Homo sapiens: one gene and its partners. The main gene of each other region encodes a partner of the protein of the gene in region 3 in a complex. Each region holds a gene or a part of one and is shown on either strand. Other genes may lie near its edges. The genes, in order: EIF1AX, RAN, IPO13 and UBE2I. A codon is read from its position in the direction of its gene.

The links.
Region 1: the proteins of IPO13 (region 3) and EIF1AX are in contact, whole or in part, in a crystal structure (PDB 3ZJY), measured with the Homo sapiens proteins. Residues at the interface, in NP_055467.3 of Homo sapiens: Tyr365, Asp369, Leu372, Asn936 (codon at 1,898), Lys937 (codon at 1,895), Arg938 (codon at 1,892); in NP_001403.1 of Homo sapiens: Leu42 (codon at 3,980), Arg82 (codon at 2,130), Lys88 (codon at 419), Tyr106 (codon at 365), Gly107 (codon at 362), Glu108 (codon at 359).
Region 2: the proteins of IPO13 (region 3) and RAN are in contact, whole or in part, in a crystal structure (PDB 3ZJY), measured with the Homo sapiens proteins. Residues at the interface, in NP_055467.3 of Homo sapiens: Leu33, Tyr34, Tyr35, Ile39, Lys42, Gln46, Leu49, Met50, Gln53, Glu73, Tyr76, Phe77, Ser80, His83, Ile84, Ile118, Thr121, Arg122, Val125, Val172, Glu175, Glu176, Thr179, Ser414, Asp415, Arg784 (codon at 5,220), Asp785 (codon at 5,217), Pro787 (codon at 5,211), Asp788 (codon at 5,208), Pro829 (codon at 2,750); in NP_006316.1 of Homo sapiens: Lys37, Lys38, Tyr39, Leu43, Gly44, Val45, Val47, Pro49, Trp64, Gly74, Leu75, Arg76, Asp77, Gly78, Tyr79, Ile81, Gln82, Asn103, Arg106, Asp107, Arg110, Val111, Tyr147 (codon at 3,288), Trp163 (codon at 3,240), Arg166 (codon at 3,231).
Region 4: the proteins of IPO13 (region 3) and UBE2I are in contact, whole or in part, in a crystal structure (PDB 2XWU), measured with the Homo sapiens proteins. Residues at the interface, in NP_055467.3 of Homo sapiens: Leu33, Tyr34, Tyr35, Asp36, Pro37, Ile39, Lys42, Gln46, Glu73, Tyr76, Gln178, Thr179, Arg181, Gln231, Glu261, Val264, Asn265, Met302, Glu303, His306, Arg310, Val313, Glu317, Asn318, Thr355, Ser358, Leu359, Leu361, Thr362, Ser413; in NP_003336.1 of Homo sapiens: Arg13 (codon at 6,338), Lys14 (codon at 6,335), Arg17 (codon at 6,326), Lys18 (codon at 6,323), Asp19 (codon at 6,320), His20 (codon at 6,317), Pro21 (codon at 6,314), Phe22 (codon at 6,311), Val25 (codon at 6,106), Val27 (codon at 6,100), Lys59 (codon at 4,727), Glu99, Asp100, Lys101, Asp102, Arg104, Lys110, Gln111, Leu114, Ile125, Gln126, Pro128, Ala131, Tyr134, Thr135, Cys138, Gln139, Ser158.

Annotation. Positions count from the first base shown.
Region 1 is NC_000023.11:20,131,839-20,139,366, forward strand, and holds part of EIF1AX (eukaryotic translation initiation factor 1A, X-chromosomal), read right to left. Parts: intron 6,785-7,528; coding exon 6,701-6,784; intron 4,576-6,700; exon of another isoform or gene 4,228-4,575; intron 4,004-4,227; coding exon 3,900-4,003; intron 2,170-3,899; coding exon 2,119-2,169; intron 426-2,118; coding exon 344-425; intron 1-343. UniProt on the Homo sapiens protein: Component of the 43S pre-initiation complex (43S PIC), which binds to the mRNA cap-proximal region, scans mRNA 5'-untranslated region, and locates the initiation codon. This protein enhances formation of the cap-proximal complex.
Region 2 is NC_000012.12:130,873,909-130,878,902, reverse strand, and holds the end of RAN (GTP-binding nuclear protein Ran), read right to left. Parts: intron 4,358-4,994; coding exon 4,170-4,357; intron 3,292-4,169; coding exon 3,121-3,291; intron 3,022-3,120; coding exon 2,977-3,021; 3' UTR 1,225-2,976; downstream 1-1,224. UniProt on the Homo sapiens protein: GTPase involved in nucleocytoplasmic transport, participating both to the import and the export from the nucleus of proteins and RNAs. Switches between a cytoplasmic GDP- and a nuclear GTP-bound state by nucleotide exchange and GTP hydrolysis.
Region 3 is NC_000001.11:43,963,040-43,969,493, reverse strand, and holds the end of IPO13 (importin-13), read right to left. Parts: intron 5,226-6,454; coding exon 5,173-5,225; intron 2,920-5,172; coding exon 2,853-2,919; intron 2,771-2,852; coding exon 2,712-2,770; intron 2,565-2,711; coding exon 2,475-2,564; intron 2,180-2,474; coding exon 1,998-2,179; intron 1,909-1,997; coding exon 1,812-1,908; 3' UTR 1,472-1,811; downstream 1-1,471. UniProt on the Homo sapiens protein: Functions in nuclear protein import as nuclear transport receptor. Serves as receptor for nuclear localization signals (NLS) in cargo substrates.
Region 4 is NC_000016.10:1,311,524-1,320,404, reverse strand, and holds part of UBE2I (SUMO-conjugating enzyme UBC9), read right to left. Parts: intron 8,059-8,881; exon of another isoform or gene 7,802-8,058; intron 6,386-7,801; 5' UTR 6,375-6,385; coding exon 6,309-6,374; intron 6,113-6,308; coding exon 6,029-6,112; intron 4,752-6,028; coding exon 4,679-4,751; intron 232-4,678; coding exon 122-231; intron 1-121. UniProt on the Homo sapiens protein: Accepts the ubiquitin-like proteins SUMO1, SUMO2, SUMO3, SUMO4 and SUMO1P1/SUMO5 from the UBLE1A-UBLE1B E1 complex and catalyzes their covalent attachment to other proteins with the help of an E3 ligase such as RANBP2, CBX4 and ZNF451.

The DNA of each region.
Region 1 (7,528 bases), on a different chromosome or scaffold from region 3:
TGTGCCACCATGCCCGGCTGACTTGCACTTCGTGTTTAACCCATATGCGCACTGACAGTCTCTCGAGGAAGGAATTTTAATAGATACTATAACAAAATTATTCCTTTAGTTAGCATTATGTGGAAGTCCAAAGCTTACAGAACTCCTCACCATATTTATTAGGAACAGAATTCCAGTAATTTCTTTCTTATAGTATCTAGTATTATGAAGCATAGGCAGGCATACTTAAAACTAAAAATGTGAGCACTAAAGTAAATAAGCAAAATCCATAGTTCCTTCACCTAACCAGCAACACATAACCTAAATACCATATGACAAGTTAATACAGTAACTCAGACATTACCATGCTCTGGAAGCTCGCCGTATGCCTTCAGACTTCTAGCTTCGTCTGCATTGTATTTTAAAATTACATCAGCTTTGTTATCCTTAAATAGAGACAAATAACTTTAAAAAACTGATCATAACAAAATATTATCAGTTATTTCATAAATTCTCATATTGAATAAACAATCAAATCTCACCGTTTTACTATAAATCTTTCTCCTTTTAAATTTTAAAGCTTTCTCATACCCTCTGAAAAAGATCCTTAGGTTTAACCCAAGAGGAAGCTTATGTACATGCCTGAATGATTAACAAGCTTGGGAAATATAGAGATCTCACTTTAATAAGAGCAGAACTGTGCATACCCCATATTTTAGATTATTTAATATTACCCTTTGATCAGAAGTCTTTTGAAGTACAAAAGTTCCCTGGGACAATAATTTGCAGGGTGATCAAACACTGCAATTCCAAAACTGAGACTGAACTGAGACTGGTATAATGACCTAAGGAAATTATACCTTTCTGTATTATCTGTGCTTCTTTGCCTAGGTATCAATCACAATCTCCTGTGGAGCTTTTATATCTTCTGAAGACAGATTAGTAGATGTGAAGAGAAGCCCAAGAATTAGTATTGTGAGAAGTTCTTTAGGTATTTCTGATGCAAAAGTCCCATTGAGAAATACTGCCTTAGAATGTTTCTACTTCCCTATTTGAAAATAATTTAACTCAGTTAAGGGAGAAAATTGATTGCTTCAACTTCAAGGACAGTGTGATTCAGACCAGTACTTCTTAAAATGTAAAGTGTATAGAAGCCTATGGAGATCTTATTAAAATGCATGTTCTGACTGAAGAGTCAAAGAACCTGTATTTCTAACAAGCTTCCAGAAGATGCTATCGAGCCATTGACCACCCTGTAAGTAGGAGGGGCACGGAAAGATCATGAATAATTTCAAATCAGAAGTTGGTCCTGGCTGTCACTTTACAGTCAAAATGTTACTCATTTTGGACCCTTGGTTTCCTTATCTATCGAACAGGAAATTACTTATTCTTCCTATTTCTGGGGTTATTGTTAGATCATAAGAAAAAAATGGACATTAAAATGGTATGAATTTAAAGCAAGCTTTCTCACCTCAGCGCTATGGATTATTGTGAGGCGGACCATTCTCTATTATGGGATGCTGTCCTGTGCCCACCCCAGCCTCTATCTACTACATGCTAGCAGCACTGCACCCATCCCCCAGTTGTGACAACCAGAAAAGTCTCCAGACACTGCCAATGTCCCTCGGAGGGCAAAACTGCCCACAGTTGAGAAACAATGGCTTAAAGTGAAGATTTAAATTATTTATTCTGGGTTTTTTTTTTTTTTAAATCAAAGTATGATCGAGGCTATACAAATAGAGATAGTATCATACAGGGATGATTTCCAATAGGTGGATGTCAAATGGATCTCACAGACCCACAATGAGTCTACAGAGTCAAGGGTTACCATCACGAAAGGCAACCACCACTTTCTTTCTTTCCCAAGTGCTCCTTTAGATTTATAGCACATACCTATGTTGTGATGTGTATTGTAATTACTTGTGTGCTTAACTCTCTCCACTACCAGGCTATGAGCCTTTTGTGGGATGGGCACTTAACTCATTCAGCTGTATCCCCTAGAATAATGGCTCCCAGATTTTGATTTAAACATAAATCCCTGGGATACCTAGCACAATGCCTGAAACAAAACTGGCTCTTAAGAAATGGCTCATCAAATTCAAGCCAGTAAAATAGGAAAAATTTACATGTAAATTTTACCTGGTAGTCTCGGAGACCAACCAAAATAATGTCCGAGGTATTTATCCAAACCTACAAAAGAAAAGTCACTGCCCGTCACATTTAAAATAACGAAGAATCAAGAAATTCCAGAGTAACAATCAATTAGTTTAGAAATTAAGAGATTTTAGGCCAGGAGCGGTGGCTCATGCCTGTAATCCCAGCACTCTGGGAGGCCAAGGTGGGCGGATCACCTGAGGTCAGGAGTTCGAGACCATCCTGGCCAACATGGCAAAAACCCGTCTCTACTAAAAAATACAAAAATTAGCTGGGCGTGGTGGCATGCCCTTGTAGTCCCAGCTACTCGGGAGGCTGAGGCTGGAGAATCACTTGAACCTGGGAGACGGAGGTTGCAGTGAGCCAAGACTGCGCTACTGCACTCCAGCCTGGGCAACAGAGTGAGACTCCGTCTCAAAAAAACAAATAAATAAACTTCTTTAAAAGAAAAAAAAAAAGAAAAGAAATTAAGAGATTTTAGTTTGGGCTGGCATTGTGGCTCACGCCTATAATCCCAGCACTTTGGGAGGCCGAGGCCGGCGGGTCACTTGAGGTCAGGAGTTCAAGACCAGCCTGGCCAAAATGGTAAAACCTTGTCTTTACTAAAAATACAAAAATTAGCGAGGCGTGGTGGCGCATGCCTATAATCCCAGCTACTCAGGAGGCTGAGGCTGGAGAAACACTTGAATCTGGGAGGCGGAGATTGCACTGAGCCAAGATTGTGCCACTGCACTCCAGCCTGGATGACAGAGTGAGACTCTGTCTCAAAAAAAAAAGAAAGAAAAAGAAAAAAAGATTTTAGTTTGGGAATAGAAGGATTAACATACCAAATTAAAAAAAATAAATACAAAATCAGAGTTGGGACTTTTAGTCAACCTGATTAATAAATCTGCCTGAATAACTACTGTGATGGTGAATTAATCATTACTTTCCAAGGCAGTCCATTCACGATGACATTCAAGAGATGCAACATTAATACAATGCTTATATAACTCATATTCAAATTTTCTGAATGTACACTTTACAGCTATATGTCCAATTCCTAAATCAGAATCCAAACAAGGGCAACCTACTCCATTTAACTGTCAGGTCTCTTTAAGTCTCCTTGCAACTAGAATAGTACCCCAGCTTTTTTTTTTTTTTTTTTTTGAAACTTTCATGACAGTAACATTGCATTAAGAGCTGGGCCATCTGGCTGGGTACAGTGGCTCATGCCTATAATCCCAGCATTTTGGGAGGCCAAGGTGGGCTGATTGCTTGAGCTGAGGATTCGAAACCAGCCTAAGCAACATGAAGAAACCCCATCTCTACAAAAAATACAGAAATTAGCCAGGCATGGTGGCACAGGCCTGTAGCCCCTGCTACACGGGAGGCTGAAGTGGGAGGATCACTTGAACCAATGAGGGTGAGGTTACAGTGAGCCCAGATCATGCCACTACTCTACAGGCTGGGTGATAAGAGTGAGACCCTGTATCAAAAAAAAGACAAGGAAAAAAAAAACTGGGCCGTTTGTTTTTGCAGAATGTCTCTCAATTTGGACTTTTTGGGCAGGAATACAATACAAGTGATACAAATGCTTCTTTAACATTAGAACCTGTATAAAATTACCATTACAGACCTTGCTATTTTACTTATAGGTAAATCACTGTTTACCAAGGTAAGTCTTTTGGGAATTTCCAAAAATGAAGTCCATGGACAGTTAAAAACTGTAGAGGGATTTTCCCCCTTAACCAATTTTATATTAAAGTAAAACAAATCACACCTACCTTTTTTCTCAATTTTCCTCTGATGTGACATAACCTCTTTACACCATCGAAACACATTGCTTCTAGCCGTCCATTTCCCAACATTTTGATTACCTGAGCATACTCTAGCGGGGAGAAAGGAAAAGGGTATGGAATATTGTTCAACTTTTGATAACAGCAACTTAAAGTCCACATAAAACTGTCAAGAGAATAAAGTTGCACCAGTTGGGAATAAATACATATAGTAAAACTATAAACAAACATAAGGGAGTGATAAACATCAAGTTAGTTAACGGCAGAGCTAGAACTAAGACTCTATGATGACATTTCTTTCTTTCTTTCTTTTTTCTGAGCTCAGGTCAAGTGTAGAAAACTTCATAGTTACAAAGGTCAGTCGTAAAACCTTTACATCATTGCCCAGAAATGATTAGGCTTTCATAGACATACATATGCACCCCCTCACCCCCAATCTCATTCATTCCTACAACTGCTACCTTTATAAACACGTGTGCGTGCACACACACACACACCCCCCACACACACACCAGACATATGCCCTTATTGTTTTACATTGTTTTATAGTTCTGCTTCTCAGAACTGTAGAGATCATGCATCAGGTAGACCGGAAAGCCTTCTGATGCTCAGATTTGGCTAGTTTCATCATTGATCCACTTCAGTAAAAGCAGATCTCAGAGAATGTAATGCCATTTCTATAATATACTGTCTCTGCTATTAGACATGTTTAAATTATCGACTCATTCTGAATAAGTAGATTGACTACCCCACTTTTGGCTCTCCTTTACCTCAGTACCTTTAGGTGCAAATCTCATAATTTTTAGTTCATTTAGCAAACAAAAACAAACTTCAAACAATGTCTTTGTTGAATTAGAATATGACTAATCCCCAGAGAGGATGTCCATTAATTTGTAAATATACTGAGACTTCATTTTGAAAGGCTCAACAGTGGGGATGACTTGTGGAAGTCAATTACTCAGACTACAGTGAGTTTAGCACCCATCTACCACCTCAACATGGTTGGTCAACTCAAAGGCAGCCTTTCTTCTGAAGTGAGGGAAAAAGTAATAATAAAACAGTGTATGCCCAAGTCAAGTCAGCTGCTATTTTAGAGGCAAGGATGACCAAGGCTAAGAAACCAAAGGACTTTTAGCCAGAAAACGTATCTCATGTTTACTGGTTTATATGTATGGCGTAATAAATCCACCCAAAGTTCTATTAAAAGCTAAAGTACTGGAAATAATTGGAATACCTGAGGAAATATGGAGTATATACTAGATATTATATCAATGTCAAATTACCTGAGTGTGATAATTCTCTTCTAGTTATATAAGAAAATATACTTGCACTTAGAAGATACATGATCAAGTAAGGGAAAAGTAACATGATGTCTCTAAATTTCAAATGGTCCTGAAGAAATCCTACATATGGGGCTAGGTGCGGTGGCTCACGCCTGTAATCCCAGCACTTTCGGAGGCCGAGACGGGTGGATCACGAGGTTAGGAGATCGAGACCCATCCTGGCTAACACAGTGAAACCCCGTCTCTACTAAAAATACAAAAAAAATACCCAGGCATGGTGGCGGGTGCCTGTAGTCCCAGCTACTTGGGAGGCTGAGGCAGGAGAATGGCGTGAACCCGGGAGGTGGAGCTTGTAGTGAGCCGAGATCGCGCCACTGCACTCCAGCCTGGGCGACAGAGCGAGACTCCATCTCAAAAAAAAAATTAAAAAATCCCACATATATATTTCTTTATATGTGTGTGTACAGATGAAGGATTTAAGGGAGTTTGTTGCACTAATACTGCAACTTTCTGTAGGTTTGAAATGACTCGAAATAAAAGTAACAGGAAAGGGCAAACGATCCAGTTAGGATTTATTTGACTAGTGCTATGTATCTTGGTCTGGCACTTACAATATTCTTCAGTCTAATAAAATCAGTTAACTGTTCAGTTTCATTTTATTGTAGTTTACGAAGTTATATGCTAATGGCACTGGAGAATGGAGAGGTCTATAAGGGCCTCAGGCTCATCCTTCAAATGTCCATGGTCTACTCAACATATTATATGTACCATTCACTACCAGAAATGCTAATCATAGAACTGCCAACTAAATCACAGAACTGTCAACCATAGCTCAATTCCCTCTGAACTATACGACACATTCTTAGTTCCCAGTACTTTGGGAGGTCATGGTGGGAGAATCACTTGAGCCCAGGAGTTCGAGAATAGCCAGGGCAACATATGAAGACCTCATCTCTATACAGTTTTTTTTTTTTTTTTTTTTTTTTTTTTGAGACAGAGTCTCCCTCTGTCACCCAGGCTGGAGTGCAGTGGTGTGATCTCGGCTCACTGCAACCTCCGCCTCCCAGGTTCAAACAATTCTCCTGCCTCAGCCTCCTGAGTAGCTGGGATTACAGGCACGTGCCACCACACCCAGCTAATTTTTGTAATTTTAGTAGAGACGGGGTTTCATCATGTTGGTCAGGCTGGTCTCGAACTCCTGACCTCGTGATCCGCCCGCCTTGGCCTCCCAAAGTGCTGGGATTACAGACGTGAGCCACTGCGCCCAGCCTAAAAAAATTTTTAAAATTAGCCAGACGTGGTGGTGTGTGCCTGTAGTCCCAAATACTCGGGAGGCTGAAGTGGAAGGACTGCTTCAGCCCAGGAGGTCATGGCTGCAGTGGGCTGTAATCGTGCCACCACACTTCACCCTGGGCGATGGGCAAGACGCTGTCTCAAAAAAATAAAGTCCCCAGCTAAAAAAGAAAGGATGTTATTTTAAAAAGCGTAATTTATGAAAACACTTACCCTGACCATCCTCTTTGAATACCAGTTCTCTTTTTTCAGATTCATTCTCATTCTTACCCCTGCGTCTGTTTTTACCTCCTTTACCTGATGGTTTAAAAAAAAGAAAAGGAGGTAAATGACATTAATTATCTGTAAAACAGTATGAAATAAAATGAAATTAAGGCTTATAAAACCATTTTTTAAAAGATCACTTAAATTAAAAAATTCATCTATTTTAGCTACACAATCATATTAAATTTACAATCTCCAATCCCAACATTAACACATTATCACCTCCCTACCCTTCTTGGAATTTCCTTTGGGGATTTTTCTGACATAAAATACACATAAATAGCAGATATTATGTTAAAAAATATAGAAAAACATTTCACTTTAGCACCCATCCTTTTGAAATAAAAATGCAATTCTATACATATTCTTCTAAGCGGAAATCTTGGGTGTCTTCTAAAGCCAGGCCCTATGCAAGGAACCCGATACTTTCAAAATTAAGTGAAGACAGTGTCTGGACAGAGAACTGTGGTTTTCAAACTTTTGGTAGCAGAGTACCATAAATATTGAAATCTCACTGGGTGCAGTGGTGTGCGCCTAGGGTCTCAGCTACTCAGGAGGCTCAGGTGGGAGGATCACTTGAGCAAGCCCAGGAGGTTCCAGGCTAGCCTGGGCAACATAGCGAGACACTGTCTCTTAAAAAATAAAGAAGATCTGTTCGGTACCCAATTTACTTTCTTTTATAATGCTGGTCCCTACTCAACATCCCTGTTTCTATTATATGACCCCAGTGACCATGCTCTTAACCACTATGCAATAATTCTGCCCATTTACTTGTCA
Region 2 (4,994 bases), on a different chromosome or scaffold from region 3:
GACCTAATGGTGTATAAAGTTCTCCCGGCTCCTCTCCACCCACCTCCATCAATCCCACCCTATCTCTAACCCCCAAGTTCTCTGTTCCTCGAGGTTCCCATAGAACATTTAATAAACACTAGGGACATGAGAGAGCAGCGACATGGCCCTCGCCCTCGTGGCAATTAGTCTAGGAAGGGAAAGTCGCTATCGCAAATTTGCCATGCTGACTAGGGCTGAAGGCAATCTTGTAATGTCTGTAGTCGGACATCCAACTCAAGGTAAAAAGCAGAGTGAACTCTAAAGGAACTAAAGCATTAACTGGTAGGACCGACTTCAGGAGAGGGAAGGGGGAGTTCTGGAAAGCAGCATGCACACAGATCTCAAGATGCACGTGTGACCAGAGCCTGCAAGACCTTGTAGGAAATGTGGAGCAGGCGAGATGCATCAGATGTTTTTTGAATAGGACTCTGACCCCTTAACTAAAGATAAGGTTTCCATGGTTAGGTGCCGTTTCTCCCCACCATGCCCTCGGCTTCAAGGGTAAAAGGTGCTGCAAGGAGTTAGGATAGGTGCTGTCCTAGTACAGGGTCTGCCTCATACAGGGAAAGCTTAGTCTCACGTAATCTTGCTGGGCAGGATAGCCCTGTACAGCCCGAGTGGCAGAAAACATCATACACGATGTCCGTCAGTTTGCTGGCAAGAAAAGCTGAATCCAACCCTCATCCCATTTGCTCAGCAGGTAATTTTTTGTGTTTCTGATCTGTTTTTGCAAAAGAAACCAGAAATTCTCTGTACTTGAGTTCCTTCAGGTGAACAGTTAGCCAGGAAACCAGTCCTCTTTGGAGGCTATTTTGGAGTCTCATCTTTTCTAGACATTTTATGATTGATACAATTTTTTAAAAAATCCCATTCTATGTGGTTTTTTAAAAAAACTGGCTCTCACACAAATTGAAACTACTAATTTACCAGTTTCACATTATATCCACACAAGACCTATGCACTAACTATGCTTTTTCTTAATGACTTTGCTCTAATAAGCTATTACTGGTTTGCAGTAACTTCATATAAAGCTTTCAAGGCTTCCCCCATTAGACACGAGATTTCAAAAAATGGAGAGCAGACTTTTCCCATTTGTACAATCTGGAGAGAACTGACCCCTTCCCCGCCGCCCCCCCAAAAGATAATAATCTCTGCTAACTCTTCAGCATTTCCTAAAGCAAATACTAGAGATGATTCAAAAAATCCAGGCAAAGTAGAAGCAATATATTTTGCAACAATTATTCTTTCAATAAAGGACTTGTAAATTCTCTCCCACACCACGTTAGACAGGTAAGTGACGTCACTTCCAAATTTCAACTGTTACATAGAAGATCCAGAATGTCAACACCACTTGCAATCTCCACAAGGTTACAAACAACACATACACCTTCAATTCAAAATACCTGAATGAAAGGTTTCATCCCAATTATGGGGAAAAAACTTCCCATCTCACAGGCTGGTTAGAAACTGGTTCTGAATACAGCGTAACATACACAGCAATTCAGATCTTAAGAAACTCAACTGTTGCCAGTTAATACAGTAAGTAGAACTTTATTCAGCTTCACCCTTATTTCATTTTTCCATATATTTAAGTGATCCTTTCTATACCTTTTAAGGTAAGCAATCATCTCAAGATTATCAGACATCTAAAGAAAACTTTGGTAAACTGGACTATAGTAATCGTATGAGAAAAAAATAGCTCAAGATTCCTAACTGCTACAAGAATAGTGTTGATGGGATCAAACTCCTAATTATCCTAATAGACCTAATTCATTTTTAAATGTGGAAAATATGCAAGATAAATTAAATGCTTAGTTAAAAAAAAAAAAAAGTTTCACCAACTGTTCTCCATTACTGAGAAGCCCCCACACTGCCCCACTGTGCATATTCCTAGTATTTCATCCATGTCCTGCTCTGCTGTGCTGCCCTACAAAAAAACCCTCCCGGGGGGGAAAAAAAAACAAAAAAACGGTGTAGTGTGAACTGCTGAAGAACTTAAATGTTCAAGACATCTTTAAAGTCTAGGAGTACCTGAAAACTGTGGGTAAACATGGACCATTTTCCTTGCGTATCAACTTCACACTAAGCATCTAACATTCAAACAAAAAAGTGCAAAATTTGTAATTATTTTTAACAGCAAGAATTCCCAACCTCCTGCCATCCACTGATGTTCCATCCTGTTTGAGGTTCTACATTAAAACATGATTACTTTTGCCATAAAAGAAAATATTACCCTTAAAATATCTATTTGATATGTACAAACCACATTTTTATTCTGACAGGTCACAGATTTTGAGCAAGTGCTTCCCTAGGTGACCCTACCTAGCCAATATGAAGGTGGAGCAAACACTGCTTTAGCTTAACTGCACTAATATTTACACCATGTAACCCTTCTAACCAAATAGAATACTGCTGACCTGTCATCATCAGTTTGTGTGACATGGCTCAAATGTACAAAAATAAACATAGGGAGAAATTAACCCAATAGATTTCAAATTAAGTGATAAAAGCAAGGCAATTCAAATATTAACATGGCATAAAACTTCCCTACTTTAGTGGTTTCCAAATGCTATTTATAAACAAGGGATGAGTTCACTTGCTTAGATATTTGAAATACAACTTTATTCTGATTCTAAACGAAAAGGAATGGGAATGACAGTAACAAACAAGATTTCACCACTGAATATTGTGATGTGACTGCAGCAGTCTTATATATGAAACTCAAGGAATCAACTGCGTTCCAAAACAGCTAAATATGCAGGTCCAAACAATGAAGTTATTTTTTAAACTGCCACATTCACTCCGAAGCCCACTCATCTCCTTCAGCATCCCACAGATGAAGCACATGTTCCGCTTAGCTAGATAATAATGAGGTGGCACACACGCTGCACCGCTGACATCACAGGACAGCTGCCTATAAAACTAGACTTCTGACGCTGGGCTCCAGCTTCATTCTCACAGGTCATCATCCTCATCCGGGAGAGCAGTTGTCTGAGCAACCTAGACGAAGAGATGGAAAAACGTTAACACTCCAGATCAAAACTGCCAGGAATAAACAAGCCAAACCGAACAATCTGAACAGCAAAGTGGCCACAATACCTCTAAGTCGTGCTCATACTGTGCTGCCAAAGCTGGGTCCATGACAACTTCTGGTGGGGCGAGAGCAGGCATGGCAACAAATTCCAAGTTAGGGTCTCCAATGAGCTTCCTAGCAAGCCAGAGGAAGGGCTTTTCAAAGTTGTAGTTACTTTTGGCAGAAATGTCGTAGTACTGTTTAAAAGAAAGGTAAAATTACTTTTTAAAATTCATTATTAAGATGACGATTTTTCTAGGACATTGCAAGATAAGAAAATGTTAAGATTCTTGGCAAGGCATGGTGGCTCATGCCTGTAATCCCAGCACTTTCGGGGGCTGAGGTGGGATTGCCTGAGGCCAATAGTACACGATCAGGCCTGGGCAACAGAGCAAGACCCCAACTCCACAAAAAAACAAATTAGGTGGGCATGGTGGTGAGTGCCTGTGAGCCCAGCTACTCAGAAGGCTGAGGTGGGAGGATTGCTTGAGCCCAGGAGTTCAGGGCTACAGTGAGCTATGTTCATGCCACTGCACTCCTGCCTGGGCAACAGAGCAAGACCCTGTCTCGAACAACAAATATATAAATACACAAACATTTCAGCTGACCAACCGGGCCAACAGTGAAACCCAATCTCTATCATTCTTTAAAAACAGTAGTATAAAAAAGACAAAATTATTTCCGGCCGGGCACAGTGGCTCATGCCTGTAATCCCAGCCCTTTAGGAGGCCAAGGCAAGTGGATCACTTGAGGTCAGGAGTTGGAGATCAGCCTGACCAACATGGTGGAAACCCCGTCTCTACTAGAAAAAAAAGTACAAAAATTAGCCAGGCGTGGTGGTACACACCTGTAATCCAGCTACTAGGGGAGCTGAGACAAAACTGCTTGAACCCGGGAGGCGGAGGTCGCAGTGAGCCAAGATTGCGACACTGCACTCCAGCATGGGGGACAGAGGAAGACTCCGTCTTGGGGAAAAAAAAATCATTTCCATATATAATAGACACTGGTTAATTTCATGGTCTTACATATAATCTCCGCTAAGAGAAATAACTCAGGAAGTTTTAATTTTACACACCTGAAGATTCTTCTTTCGGTGGAAGACAATGGATTTCGCCTTCACTTTCCTGTCCTTAATATCCACTTTGTTGCCACACAACACAATGGGGATGTTTTCACACACTCGTACCAGATCTCTATGCCAGTTAGGCACATTCTTGTAAGTAACTCTCGATGTTACATCAAACATTATGATGGCACACTGGGCTGAAGAAACATTTGTGGGAATTAGTACACTCAGTTTACTGCACAAGTGAAGAATGCTAAGAACCAGAGACTAGGATTCAACTAGTTATAGTCTTAGACCTCAACGAGTCACCTGTATCTCTCCCCTCACTTTCAAGGTCTCTGTCAATTCTAAAAATGTTAATACACAATTCCTCCTAAGAGAGATGAGCTGACCCTATCAAATCTCCCTGATATACTTCACCATTAATACTCCCCTCATCCCAAAAAAGTATCTGAAGTAATTAATGCTAAATGAGATTCTGGATAACCAAGCTGCCATATTCTGAGGGTAGGGCCTGGAAACACATTCTTCAGAAGGTCTTTAAATGGCTGGCTATACTGGAAAACATTATTCCTGTCTTAAAAAATCCAGATAGGCCAAGCAATGTGGCTCACGTCTGTAATCCCAGCACTTTGAGAGGCTGAGGTGGGTGGATCACCTGAGCTCATGAGTTCCAGACCAGCATGGGCAACATGGTGAATCCCCATCTCTACAAAAAAATACAAAAATTAGTCAGGCATAGTGGCACGTGCCTATAGTCCAAGCTACTCAGGATGCTGAGGTAAGAGGATGGCTTGAGCTTAGGAGGCGGAAGCTGCACTCCAGGTTGGGCAA
Region 3 (6,454 bases):
AGACAGGTTTTTGCCATGTTGCTCAGACTGGTCACAAACTCCTGAACTCAAGCAATCCACTCATCTCGGCCTCCCAAAATGCTGAGAGTACAGACGTGAGCCACCGTGCCCGGCTACACTGCATAATTTTAAACTTGGTGCCGACCGGCTCGGGTTTGAATATTGTGCTTGGTCACTTGCTACTGAGTATCTTAGGAATGTCCCTATGCCCATTTCCTTATCTGAAGAATGGGGAGTTGTGACAATAGTACCTCTTAATAAGATTGTTGTGAGGGTCTAATTAATTTATATACAAAACTTTACAAAGTAGTTCTTTGGATATCGCATGCAGTGAAAGCATTTGCTATTTAATCAGCCAAATACTGAGCACTTACTGTACATTAGGCACTTCATTTTTAGTGTTTACAGTCTTTGGAGTAAGAATTATCCCGAGTGGTACCAAGGACATGACTGGCACATCCTCAAGTCACAGGAGATGCTCTGCACAGCTCCAGCCATCCTCAAACACTGCTGCTTCCCAGCAATACCCCCAGTGCATACCACATAGACCTCTACCCTCCAGCCCCTCACATCCCCTCTACTCCCCATGTTTACTTATATGCAAACACCCCCACATGCAACATCACTTGAAATGCCCTCCTTACATACCTCTGTCAGATACGGAAACTGAGGTTCAAAGAGACTACTTGTGTAATAAGACACTAATTCTGTGGCACAACCAGCATCAAACCCGGATCTATTGAACAGGGAAGGAGTGGGATGAATGTGGGAGTAACGAGTTCCCCATCACCCACAAGGAGATTGAAAGCTCAAGGGTAAAAGTGGGGAGAACTCATTCTGCTCTTCAGATCTTACTGAGGAGAAGCCTGGGGTACCTGAGAGGCAGCCTAGGTGAAACTATAGCTGAGGAGACAGAAAGGGAGGCAACACTGCTAAGGGAGAAAAGCAAGAATAGGTCAGGAGCTGTCCCTGGTGCTGATTGATCCCTGACCATCCTGTGCTGGAGGTCCTGTGTAAGCGGGGAGCAGCGGACATATGGACAACCTTAGGTCCTACTTTCCTCTTTTCTCCTCTGCGGCTGAGATATCTTCTCTCCTTCACCTCCCTGCCACCCACCCACCCCCCAATACACACACACTCAGCCCCTTTCTATAGCCCTCCTCAACCATATGCAAGTTCGATGTTGTATAACTCCACACCAGAAACCCCTCCCGGAAGTCAAAACTCCACTCCATTTCTTCCTTCCTAAACGGACCCAGCCCTACCCCACTTGCAGCCCAAAGTCTCAAGTCCTCTACCTAGAAAGCCTACTATTCCTGTCAAAAACTTTCTCCATGCAGCCTTCCCTCACTTCCTACCATTCTCCATGGTAGCTATGGACTAGATCAACCTTTGTTCAGGGCAGAACGACGCAGGACAGAGCTAGGGGCCTAATATTCGGCGGTGTTGATTAAATAAATGTATGCATACATGCATGTTGGGATTAATTTAATGGGGATGGGGGGGTTGATGACACTACTGCAACCACCCCGCCCCAAGGACAATGACAGTATTCTGAAGGGCTCCAGCCTAGGTGGCTTGGCTACAGTAGTATCTCTTCCAACCTGGGAGCTAGAGGATGTTCCCACCATTCCCTCCCAAGGCCTGGGTCCAAGCATCCTCCCATCCTTCCCCCAGGCCTTCTGGACCCAGGCTTTCAGTTAGGTGGTGGTGACAGCAGAAAGGAGGCAGAGACAGCAGTGAGGGTCCAGGTTTACTCTTTGGGAATAGGGAAGGATGAAGAGAAGGGGTGGATGGGATGGGGGCACCCCTCAGTAGTCAGCTGTGTAATCTGTGCCATGGAGACCCCGGCACAGCAGTGTGAACTCCTTCACCATCTCCTTCACCCGCCTCTTGTTCACTCGCTCGCTGAAGGAGAAAAGGGAGAGCAGGTTAGCACCAGCCACCACCACTGCCCCCTCTCTGCCTGACCCCAGGCCCACCCCAGCTCTGCTCACCGAAGGATCTGCTGGCTGAAGGTATCCTTCTGTTCAGGGCTGAGGCGGGCAGAGGGGAAACCAGGTGGCTGCAGGGCCTCCTTGATCCACATGCTCAGGAGGCTGAAGCAGTGCTTGTTCAGGGCGAACAGGATATCGGCAAAGCAGTCCATGAGGCTGCGGGAGGCCTGGCCCCCAATGGCCTGAGGGAGAGGGGTTCTCAGCACACCAGGGTGTTGCCCCTTCCGCCGCTTCTGCAGCAAGAATGCCTAACTGCCCTCTGGACAGTTCCTAAGCCAAACTGCACATCACAGTGAGCGCTGCTTTTTGAGAGCCAGCTGATCCCCACAGCAATCCTAACAACTTTCAGGCATTTAATTGAAGAAGAAACAGAATCTGAGAGCTTAGGGGACCAAAGGCTCAAGCCTCCCAGAAGGCCAGCTGCCTCAGCAGTGAGGGGCCCTCACCCCCATCAAACCCCCCTTTGCTCCGTCTCACCTCCAGCACTGCTATGAGCAGCATACGACCGTCTTCCTGTACCACCTTTCCCACAGACTCTACTTCCCCACACCGAGGCAGCAGCTCTGTCTGCAGAGGATGGAGAGGCCCATCAGCCCAGCTCCTTCCCAGCTCTCCCTGAGGACAAGACCTGTACACCCCAGCCCTACTGTCTGAAGTCCTGGGCAGGGGAGGGCACTGGGGTGGCAGTGGGTCAGGGTTCAGCATGGGACTCACAAAGAAGCCACAGGAGGCCTTGACAGTAGGTGCCTCAGGGAACTTGAGGGCCAGCACAGCTGTGGGAAAGGCAGAGGCAGATCAGTTTAACGATCCTTCTAGGGGAGCCCCAGGCCCACCTGTCCATCTCGCCCCACTTACCACACTGGAACACAGCTTTGACATCCAATCGTTCACACAGGAACAAATCTGGCTTCCGCTTCAGAGCCTGCAGGAGGTGGAGCTGGTAAGCCCAGCCCCAGCCAGCTCCAAGGACCATCCCCCCCACTCACCTGCCACCCCAGCCCCCAACTTCACACCTCACAGGTAGAGGCTGCCAAAACCAGCTACCCAGCCATCTCTGGGGGACCCGGACCACCTCAGAGTTCAGTAGGTCAGGTGAGGACAGCTCAAGGGATGCTATGTACATGTATGTGTACATGAACACGCAGGTGTACGTGAGAGAGGTTGGGGGTGGGGATCATAATGCAGAAAGTTTGGGTTCCAGACACCTTTCCCTCCCCCTCCATCAGGGCCAGATGTCTCGCAGGCTCTAGGTTGCCAGCAGTGACTTCATGTTGATTCACAGAGGGAGTTAAGCACCCCCAGTTTGTGAACAGGGTAGCAGGAAGAAGAGATGGCAGCCAGACAGGGAGCCCTCAGCCCAACAGCCCTCCTCCCATGTCCCTCCTGTATTCCTGAGGCACCCTCCAGCTCCTGCTCAAAAAGAAGAAAAGTACAGCAGGAGCCTTGGAGCCTCAGCCCCATCTTTCACCCAGGGTACCCTGTGTCCAGGCCCTCTTCGGCCATACACACACCAAGGAGCCAGTGCTGCTGTGGGTGAGGGGGAAGAGATGAAGTGAAGGGGGCAGATGGCCTGCCCCGAGTGGTACCAGGACATGACTGGCACATCCTCAGGTCACAGGAGATGCTCTGCACAGCTCCAGTCATCCTCAAACACTGCTGCTCCCCAGCAATGCCCCCAGTGCATACCACATAGACCTCTACCCTCCAGCCCCTCACATCCCCTCTACCCCCCATGTTTACTCATGTGCAAACACCCCCACATGCACCATCACTTGAAATGCCCTCCTTACACACTTCTCTAACACCGCTAACATACACACACTCTCCCCATCTGGAACACACCCTCATTACACAGTCATACACCAAACACCTGCACATCCCCAAACCATGTCCACACACCTACACCCTCAGCCTTCCCACAGTCCCCCTGTGCACTCTTCCAACATACCCATCCACAAATACACATTCAGACACCCTCCGCATCAAAGATACACCTTTGAAAACACCCACACACATATCCATCCAGGCCCAGAACACTCCCTATTCTTCCCTCCTCCCACCCTACCCATCCCCCAGAAACTAGACTTGTAAGTTCCAGGAGAGCAAGAACTGTGCCTGGTTTTGCTCGCTATCATATCCTCAGTACCTAGCAAAGTACAGCATGTATCACACACTCAATAAATATCTGTGGAATGATTAAGCAAAGAAACACTCCATTTACCCCAATTCACAGGTTAGGGGGTCTGCGTGCTAGGATCCCCTAACACACAGAAGCCCCCATCACACTAACTTCATACCCCCACAGCCCAACATGCATCTCCAAACCATACTCTGATACAGACATACCAATGCCACAACATACACTCCTATCCTCCATAATATACACTCCGACAACCCAACACACACACCTCCAACACACGTCCACGCTCTAAATCCATCAAGGCCTAACACATCAACAAACAACACAAAACACACAACACATCAACATACAGCACACATCAAGGCACACATTCATCTCAGCACCCAACACAATTCACATACTACTTACAGGTGATTTCTGTTCCCTTCCCAAACCAAACTCAAAACATACAAAATAAGGTCTCACACACTGAAACACATACAAAATGCAAACACATCCTAGCATGGAGCCTGCACTCCACCTCCTAGCAGCAGCTCAACCTCTCCAACAGCCCAACTCTGGGCTCCACCGCGCACATTCCTCTTCAGCCCCTCGCTTTGGAGCTGCTCCCAGCCTACCTCTCAGGAGCAGGCTGGGGGCACTGAGGCAGGCAGTTCCCGGCAGGAGCACGGGGACAGTGTACCCCAGACCCTTCAACTCCAGCCCTACACGTGAACTTCTTGGGCAACAAGAAGCTGCTGGGCGCAGTCACCACCCCCTCCCTTTCCCATTCCCCACCCGATGCCAGCCCAGCTCCCTCCGTTTGGGATCAGCCTCTCCCTGGTCTTTGTAGAAGACTGAGCTAGTGAGGCATAGGGGCACTAAAGGAGGATGTTGGGTTGTCAACTTCCACGGAAACAGATGAAGAAACTCTATTCAACTGAACAGAAAAAAAATTTGTCAACAGAAAGCTAAAAATAGGCTTAAATTGAATTTCAACATAAGAGAAAGAGAAAGAGAGAGAACAGAACGTGAATGAATAAAACTAAAACACACCTGTGCCAGGAGTTGCATAAATGAATCAACAATATCAGGATGATCCCTGGGCCCTAAAATATAATAAAGATGGAACTTAAGAAAAAATTATACAAACAGCAACTCAACCTCATATAGTTATGTGGGACTGAGAGCCTGCAGGGAGACAGCGTGGGGGCACATGAGCAGCAGGAAGCAAGATAAAGAAACAAAACATACAAAAACCATGAACTGGGAGAAGCCCAACAGAAAGAGACGGCAAAGTGAAGGACGGGCCTGCCCCAGCTCCCTCCAAGGGGCCTTCCGCCTACTCCCCACTCCTCCTCAGGCCATCCCCTCATGTTCCCTTGGTACTTGAGCAATTCTGGACTCCATATAGCTGAAGAAACGGCCACCACACTTACTGTGGCCTCTGGCAGGTTGGGGTAGCCCTACACTGCTCCTAGCACATACCTCCCATCAGCCAGTCATTGAAGAGGAAAGCTGGGATGGCGGTGGGGGGGTGGGGGAGTCAGTCCTTGGTATCTCCTTTTGAGGTTTATCTGAGGGCCCTAGAAAGGCCAGGGCATCAGAGCCTGAGTAAGTGCCACCTCACTTCAATGGCCTTAGGGCTCTTGGTCTGGCAAAGGAAAATAATCTATTCAGTCCACTTAAACCACAGGACTCTTGCTTAGGTAGGGCAGTGCCCAGCATGCTCTGGAGATGGCCTGGCAAGTCACTGGCAGGGCCCAGAGGAGGAAACAGTATCATAAGGCCAAAAACAAGAGCCCCACCCCAGCAAACCTCCTCCACATGGACATGGACTCTGCAGAGAGCCAAGCTCAGGGCTGAGGACTAGTTCCCATCATCTGGACATGCCAAGAAACAGGGAAACAAGAAACATGTCATCCTATGGTCCAGTGGGAAGGCAGAGCCCGAGGAAGGAATGGCTAAGATTGGGATGGCATAACAGGTATGGGAGCCATCCTGTCCAGCGAGACAACCAACAAGCCCAACGTATATGATGTTGGACACTGCTGCCTCCAGTTCTGATCATTCCTGAGGCAAGAATATGGCATGCACCTGGAGCTCCTACCCAGGCTTCTCCACTCTCAGGAGGATGTGGTACAAAACCATCTGCCTAAGACACCACTAAGTAGCTGTGTGATCTTGCGCAAGCCACAAATGCTCAGTTTCCCCATCTGTAAAGCAGATAATCTCTGCCCTGCTTCCTTCTCTAGGCTATGAAGAGTCACCAATAAAGTCTGTCCCTTTGGTATCTGAACCCTGAGTTATTTAAGTCCTAGAAAGTGAGGCCCAGTGT
Region 4 (8,881 bases), on a different chromosome or scaffold from region 3:
AGCAGTTTGAAAGGGAGACACCGTGAGACTCGGCCTCAGCCACAGAGAATGACCACAGACCCACGTGTCCGGAGGGGAGACTAAGGCAGCCCTGCCGGTGCCAGAGGCGGAGGCCCCGTACCTGTTTGATTGTGATGGCTGGCCTCCAGTCCTTGTCCTCCTCTAAGATGGACAGGCACACTGTCCCCGAAGGGTACACATTCGGGTGAAATAATGGTGGTTCGAATTTACCTGGAGGAAGAGGAAGAAAGGAAGCACTTTTTGGAGGCAGGCACTGTCCCAGAGTCACGTCCTTCCCCACATCACCCTCCTCCCAACACTGGGGCCCCGGGTTGGTAGCCAGGTTATTTGGCCAAAAACTTTTCAAAAAAATTAAATTGTGGCCATGAGGAGACTAAAGGAAGACATATCCACCTTTGCACACAGGGAACAGAGCCTTGGGGACACGGCCGCAGCCGAGACGAAGCTGTGTCTCTCCCAGGACAGAACTCCCAGCACAGCCAGGCAGTCTGGGAACACAGGCCCCAGGGTGGCCACTTAACCTGTGGCCCCCACATCCTTTCCAGCTGGGCCAGACTCAGGGGAGATGGGAGGAGCTGCAGGAGACGTCCAGGGACATAGCCAACGCCCTTCCAGAGTCGGCTGTTCCGACGCAGACCCTCTGCTTCCAGGATATACGGGCTTTTAGGACCCTGTGTTATTTCTTTACAAAAAAGCAGAAAAGTTTGCCACCATTAGCCCCACCAGGGACCATCACAGTTGATATTCTAGGCTATTTCCCATCTTTTACCTGGGCATCCTCCCTCTTCTCTCTCAATGCTACGGAAGGACACACAGTGCGGCATGTCTAGTGCAGCCGGAGGAATTACCAGAAAGCCAACGCGCCACGAACACCTACAGCTTCCCCGAACACTCGCTCCTACCGACCACTGCATCTGCCCCGTAATCCCAACTGCAACATCCGCAGGCAGCTTCCTGGACTTCAGGTACCATGGAGATGCACAGGGCACACTCCCTGGGGAACGCGAAGACACCACCGCAGACCGTCCCACACCGCGACCATCCCACACCGCAGGAGCACACGGGCGACACCAGCAGCTGCGTGGCTGTCCTGAGTGCGAACACGCGTGAGCGCGCTGCTGTGGAATGTGGGGTGACGGTGTTGGCCCTCAAGCCGTGCTGCTTCCAGGCTGCTCACGCAGGCTGCGTCGCTGGCGGATTCCAGCCACCGGGTGAGGTGCACGGCAGCCACTCCGTGGTGCTACGCTGCGCCTGCTGGTGACCGCTGAGCGCCCCTTTCGGCCCAGGCTGCTTCCTGGCGACTGCTTCGCAGAAGTTCCTCAAGCGATACGTCTTACAGGGCTCTTCTGCTTGGGGCTTGACTTTTTGCTTTTTTAATTTTTTGAGATGGAGTTTCACTGTGGTGCCCAGGCTGGATCTCGGCTCACTGCAGCCTTCACCTCCCGGGCTCAAGTGATTCTCCCGCCTCACCTTGGCCTCCAGAGTAGCTGAGGTTACAGGCACCCGCCATCAAGCTTGGCCAATTTTTCTATTTTATTAGAACCGGGGTTCCTCCACTGTTGGTCAGGCTGGTCTCAAACTCCTGACCTTAAGTGATTCACTTGCCTTGGCCTCCCAAAGTGCTGGGATCACAGGTGTGAGCCAACGCGCCCGGCCCGACCTTTTCCTCTTCTAAGGGAATCTTTTGGCAAAAACAAAAATTGCCTAATTTCAATTTAATCTGATTCTCAATCTCGTTTCTTCTGCCGATCACAACTTACCCGCAGAAAGGCACAGATGCTGGATGCCAGCACTGCCAGGTCCACCTGTCCCTCCCAAGGTAGAGGCTGCCTCCTACTTCCTCATGGCCTCCGGCTTGGCCGCTCCCGCGCTTCAAAGAAGGAACACAAAGGGGGTGCCCTCCTGTCTGGACTGTCCGCCAGGCATCATGTGGCCTCTTCACTCTTCCCTACCTGTCATCCTAGGACGTCTGGGCTGGGGCAAGTGGGGGTGACACCGGCACCCATCTGTGCCTCTGGTGGACACATGTATGTGCTTCTGTGAATCTCGACTGACTCAAGTGAACAGCCAGGTCCTACAGCATGAGCTCAGCTTCCACTGGTGTGGCAGGCAGCGTCCAGGGGAAACGTTCAGAACATCCGCTCTCTCCAGCGGTGGCTGAGGCTCCCGCTGCCCTGCGCCGCGGCTCCGTCTGCTCCCCTGTGCGCTACGGCAGATCCCACTGGGGAGGCTTTCACTCTTTGGCAAAGCCAGGCATCCCTGCCGCATTTGCTGGCTGGGTGGAGGCCTTTCCTGTGAGGGACACGCTGGACGTCATGGCAGCCTTCTTACTGATTCCCAGGAGCTCTTGGTAGATTCAGGGTGAGGGCTGAGGTACGTACATACACTGTAGTGTGCCCTCCTGCCCGGCGCCAACTGCAGTCTTTATGATAAAGAGAGATTCTTAATTTCAACTTAGTCAACTCGTCAATCTCCCTCCGGCCAGCACTTCACTGCATCCCTGGTGAAGAGATCCCTGCCTGCCCAGGGCTCACGGACACCATCCCGGGTCTTCCTCTCCACGCTGTCCTGCTTGGGCACCACAAGCCATCTGGAAGCTGTTTCTCTATGGTGGGAGGCAGAGCTCGTCTCTCCTGCTGGAATATCCCTCAGGTGTCACAGCCCAAACCACCACATGCGTGGCCTCCGGACTCCTCGTTCTGTCCGCGGGTCTGCCTGCCTGTCTTCTCAGCAAGCCTGCAGTCTCCATCACCGTGTCCCGTGGCAGGTCTAGTGGGGGGTGGGTGGGTGTGCTCTGCACCCACGGAGCCTCAGCCTGGGTCTCGCCACCCCACCAAGAAGCCAAGGCCTCCACGTTTCTGCATTTCCTGGGTCCATGGGACAGTTTCCAACAAGATGTGCTTGACTCCAACTGGGATCACATGGAATCTGCAGACGAGCCTGGAGAGAAGGGCTGTCTGTACAATGTCGTGTGTTCCCCTCCACACACACGGCAGAGCTCAGCTACCGCTCAGGCCGGCCTTGGTTTCCCTTGCAATATTCTACAGTTTTCGGTACAGAGGTCCTGAACCAATCTTTTATTGCATTTATTCCAACGTATTTCATGCTACTATAAATGGCAGTTTTAAAACCTTGCTCGCTGAAATGATATAAAAGCAGATTTGTGTACCTCAATCTCGACTTCATTTTTATATTTATTATTTAGCTTTGTTTCCTTTACCAGGTCCTGTGCTACTTTTCTTTTCTTTTTTTTTTTTTGAGACAGGGTCTTGCCCTGCTGCCCAGGCTGGAGTGTAGTGGCGCGATCTCGGCTCACTGGACCCGCCTCCTGGATTCAAGCACTTCTCCTGCCTCAGCCTCCCGAGCAGCTGGGATTAAAGGCACCCACCACCACACCCGCTAATTTTTGTTTGTTTGTTTGTTTTTTTTAGTAGAGACAGGGTTTCACCATGTTGTCCAGGCTGGTCTTCACCTCAGGTGATCCTCCCACCTCGGCCTCCAAAAGTGCTGGGATTCCAGGTGTGAGCCACCGTGCCCAGCCTTGCACCTCAGCTTTACTGAGCTGTTGTCCTGGCCTTCCTCCCCACCTCTTCCGTTGTGACTTCTTTTTCTTGTCTTGCTGCATTTGCTTGGAATTCCAATCAACGGTTGAACAGAATCAATGAAAGCAGCTACTGTGTCTCATTCTTATATTTTTCTTAATTAAAATAAGTCATCTTAAGTAATACCTGCTCATGGTTTAAAAAAAAAATCAAACAGCAAAGGACAATCCAAAAATGAAGCAAGTCTCGACCAGCTGGTGCTGTCAGCAGTCCTCAAGCTCCTCTGGTCACTGCCACTGTGGAAAACACTTGTGTGTCTTGAGTGACAATTGCAGTGGAAGCTTTTACACAGCACTCTCGCCTCACCGTGGCCAGGCGCTGTCTAGGTGCTGGGCACGTGTTAATGCGTGGAACTCACCACAGAAAGGGCCTGCCGATTTCCAGCTATGGGACGGCAGGGACGTGGCGGCCCTCTCCTCCCTCTCCTGAGTTTTGCTGAACTGACTGAGATCACTAACTTAGCTGTAGGCTCAAAGTCGAACCTGGCCTCAGCCCTTTCTTCTCGCGCCTTCTCTGCTGCTCCCCTGCTCTATGCCTGCCCGGCTGCAGACGCAGCCCCGGGTGGGAGAGACTGCGAGAGCCCACAGGAAGAGCAGTGAGGTGGGGCAAGATAAACCCTCCAGTGAGACTCGGAGTGGTGGCGCTTCTGCACGTCCATCCCATCCAGGGCTGGGGTCTTGTGGGCACCAAATCCTGTCTTCATCGCCAACAATCACTGAGGGTCCAGGCACTCCTAGCCCAGGAGCTCCAGCCTGGATCTCACAGCCTCTCCCTGCAAAGGACTCTGGAGCTTCCCAGCCAATTAGCTGGGATGAGAGACTAAGTCTATTACGTGCACCGCCCACCCGTGGAGCTGGAAACAGACTCGCATCTGCAGCCTGAGGCGGGGATCAGGGATCAAAGCCGACCTCCAAATCTGTGATCTCACTCCCTCCCAGCTCCATGGATCGCCCGGACCAGGGCGCCACGGCCACAGCCACGGGCCTCTTTGGAGAGGACTCCAATCCCCGCAGGAACAGGCCGACTTCCAGGACACTGAACAGGGAGCTACTTACATTTTGGTGGCGAAGATGGATAATCATCTTTGAAAAGCATCCGTAGTTTAAACAAGCCTCCTTCCCACGGAGTCTGTGGGGAAATAAACCGTGGTGAGATGGGCTGCTTGCCTGCCGCAGGCCGGCCCAGGAGGAAGGGGATCGCTTCTAGGACACAACCTCCAGGACTGCGAGGACACCGGGGGCCAGAGGCCCGACAGAGGCGGCTCCCATACCAGCCTGAAGCCTGGACCAGCCCCACCAAGGGGGCGGTCAGGACCTCTGCCATGCCCAGAGAGTGAGTCGGAAAGGCCCTCCTGGAAAGGAGAGGAGGAGACGGGGGTCGGGGGCTGGGCTGGGGGGCAACGAGTGCCGCACACTGGGGCCGGCAGCGCCAAGAGCACACCCGTGCCCTCACCCCAGGGTGTTCTGCAAGCCCCTGCCCCAGGTCCCGCCTGGATGAGGCGCCTTTGCCACCCCACAACCCGACACCACTCCCGTCTTCCTTGGGGCCGCGCGCGCACCTGCCTCGCCGTAATGTGAAGGGCAAGGGACGTTCTCAGCAGAGCCTCAGACAAGTGACAAATCCAAGCCACATCCTGTCTCGGGCAAAGCTGAGTCCTGCTGGGACTGCTCAGCTCAGGGGGCCGGAGCTGCTGTGAGTTTCAGAGCGAAACCCAGAGGCTGGCATGGGCCGGAGGGAACAAGGCCTCGGGCAGGACCAACACCTCAGGGATCTCTCCTTCCTTCAGAGTCCACGAGCATGAACCTTATGTGCAAGCCGGCCTGGAGTCCCTGGCCAAGCACTTCATGTGAGCCGGGCAAAGAGGACAGGCACATGGGCCGCCCTGCTTGCCACAGACACACGGGGCCCCAAGCAGGCATCCTAGGTGGCTGCCGCCAGTCCCTGTGCCCCAGGAGGTTCTCCAGTAGACGGTTTTAGGCCGGGGTGGCTCTCCTGCAAACCCAGCTCCCGCGACCTGAGCCACACCTGGAAGGACACAGCAGAATCCCGGGTTCCAGCACGCAAAGGCTGCCCGCCCCTCAGGCCTGCTCCCAACACACATCAGAGCCCCTTCCCCTCTGCCACAGCTCAGCCCTGTGCCCGGCCAGGCCCAGCCTGCTTCCTTCTCAACCAGAAATGCCCTCGGTAGGGACACAGCTGTCACCCCAACCTTGCCAGCACCACCTTCTGAGCTCAAGTCCTCACGGGGCGGGGGCCAGGCCACAGCTGGGGATCTGAGCTGTTGACCGCGGCCTGTGACAAGGGTGGCCGTCACGGACGGCAGGGATCTGAGCGGAGTATCCCCATGGCACTGCCGCACGCATCTGCTGAGCCCCGACAGGCAGGAGGCCGGCAGCGCCCCTTACCCCTTTCTTTCCTGGAATGGCGCACTCCCAGTTCATGAGGTTCATCGTGCCATCGGGATTTTTTGTTGGGACAGCCACGAAACCCTGAGAGAAAAGAAAACAACCACAAAAGCATATCAGCGTGGCGGCATCTAGTTTGAGCAAAACCACCAAGAACCGGCCTGCGAGTCCCACCGGCCCAGCCCAGGCACGCGACCAGCTCCCTCCCAGTAGGGAGGGCGCGGTTTCAGCCGAGGGAGCCTGTCCGCGGCACTGCACACAGAAATGAAGCCCTCCTTACAAATGGGTGGTCTTTCCTCCATGCTTTCCTCTCCTGGGCGAGTCTGCTGAGGGCGATCCCCGACATGTTCAAAGTCCCTGGAACACAGGAGGCAGAGCACGGGGTCAGGAGAGGCGAGCGGGCTCCTGCCACCCCAGCACGCGCACGTGGCCCGCAGCAGGCAGGCTTGCTCCTAACATACGGTGGCCTGGCCCAGCAGGGACTCTCTTCTTGCAAGCCGTCGTCCGACCCCGGGGGTCTACCAGGGGAGGCCTTGTGAGCGGCGCCCAGATCACCGGGAGGCGGGGGCAGGTAGGACCCCTCCCCATGGCCCCAACCCAGCCCTGGTCTGCGACACATGCTGCGGCCTCTGCTCGAAGGTGAGGAGACAGATGTTCAGAGGCTGGGCCGCTGCGGCTGGGGGGTAGCTGCCACCCTGTGGTGGCTGACATGGCAGGGTCCTCACCATACCATCAGGTGGGGACTAGGCAGGGCTGGGGCCCCAGATGGATGTGGGGTGCTGGGTCCCTGCCTTAGTATCAGGCGCTCAGAACTGAGACTCAGGCTGGGCCAGGGGACACCTGTTATTCTTTTTTTTTTTTTTTTTTTTTTTTTTTGAGACAGAGTCTCATTCTATTGCTCAGGCTGGAATGCAGTGGCACGATCTCGGCTCACTGCAACCTCCGCCTCCTGAGTTCAAGCAATTCTCCTGCCTCAGCCTCCCGAGTAGCTGAGACTACAGGCGTGTGCCACCACGCCCAGCTAATTTTTGTATTTTTAGTAGAGATAGGGTTTCACCATGTTGAAGACAGAGCAGAACAAGTACCACAGGGCAGAGGCTCAGCCTCACTGAGAGAGGAGCCCTCCACGGGGACACCCTTCCCAGACCGTGCAGCCACTACCACGTCCCTGTGGCTTCAGGGGACAGACGGGTCCTGCAGGGCAGGGCAGGAGCATGGGGTAGGGGACCAGGTCCCTGATCAGAGGCAGCGGCACACACGCCAGATTCCAGCTCCACACATCTGCACGGGACCTCGGGGGCTTGGCACCTTCGCCTTTGCGTTCTCGGCGGGAGCCTGTCGGCCAGCACTGTCACTGGGGACACCAGGCAGACAGGGCCAGCAGCCTCAATGCCACCCTCAACTGTCACCCTACTGGTGGCCACCTTTACCCACGAAAAACAGCGCTCAAGATACAAAACTTGCCCAAGAATTCAAACCTAAGTGTGTGCTGGTTTTCAAAGTCCATGGGAACACTGAAGCTACTACCCCCAAGTCTGATATCTCAACACCAAACAAGAGCCACCTCTACAAAGCTGGGGGACTGAGCCAGGTCTTCTAAGCTGTGGGGGGCCGTCCCTACTACGGCTTGGGCTGTCCTAGAATAGCCACAAGGGCCCTGGGGACCTGGATGGCTCCCACACCTGTGGAGGCCCACGAACCTCACACACCTCGCAGCCGCAGAAAGGGGCCAGGTCAGCAGCTCCACCTGCGTCGGAGCCGCCGCAGCCTCACCTGGCACTCGTTAGGGAGACAAGGCCCAGTCCCCGGCAGACCCACGGACGAAGGAGCTCTGAGAGGCCCGCACTCAGGTTCTGGGTGGCACGATGACTTCCCCAGTCAGCAGAGCAGAAATCGGGGGTGGGGTTGGGATCAAAGAAGCCAAGGCAGGTCCAGTGTCGCCAGGGCACCAGGCTTCTGAAGCTGCTAGAGCCGCCTGCCCTGCAGGTGAATTTGGCTCCTTTTCACCAAACACAGATCCTCAGGGCAGCCTGAGAAAAAGCAGGCGAAGGAACCTGGGTCCTCCAGTCAGCAGGCGCTGGCGTCACAGCGAGAGGGTGACAGGGGCCAGCCGGGCACTGGCCTCCAGGTCCACGACTAAGTCCAAGACAGGCAGCCCGGGCTGGAGGCAGCCCCAGACCGGGCCCCACCGGGATGTCCTTCCCCACGCCCTCCTCACATGATGCAGAGGAGCCCGCAGGCCGCCCGCCCTCTGGACCGTTTGCCCTTCCCCGTGCCCTCCTCTAAGTGAGGGGGGGGGAGCCAGGGGCCAGACAGGGAGAAAGTGGGGGGCACAGCTATGGTCAGGCAGGGTTCGAGCCCAGAGCGGAGTGGAGCGCCCGCCAACCACGGTTTCAAGGCTGTCTCCGCACTGGGCTGGACTCCGAAACTCCACACGTTCCTCCACCCTCCACTCCCACGTGGAGCAGCCCAGCTGCGACTTGAGGACTCACAGCTCTCGCTTCCCCAGCCCCAGGATGGGCTTCCTGAGTGGCCGCAGCCTGTGCCCGGTGCGGTGCAAAGCAGCCTGGCGAGTGGCCATTTCAAGGAGGCACGACCTCCCAGGTGCCCGGGGTCTGAGCGAGGCCAGGCATCAGGCAAGTCTCTGAAGCCTCAGGCCAGTGCTCCAGACACTGAAGGACCATGGGCAAGGCTATCCTCACAGCCAGGCAAGGCCAGGCCACAGAGAGGCCAGACGGGCCTGGGACCCTGCCACAGGCAGCCCTCCTGCTGAGGACTGGACAGAGCCGCCTAGAGGCCCCCGTCCCAGCACCTAGCTATTGCTGTCTCAGGTGTGAGAAGTCGTGAGGGGTG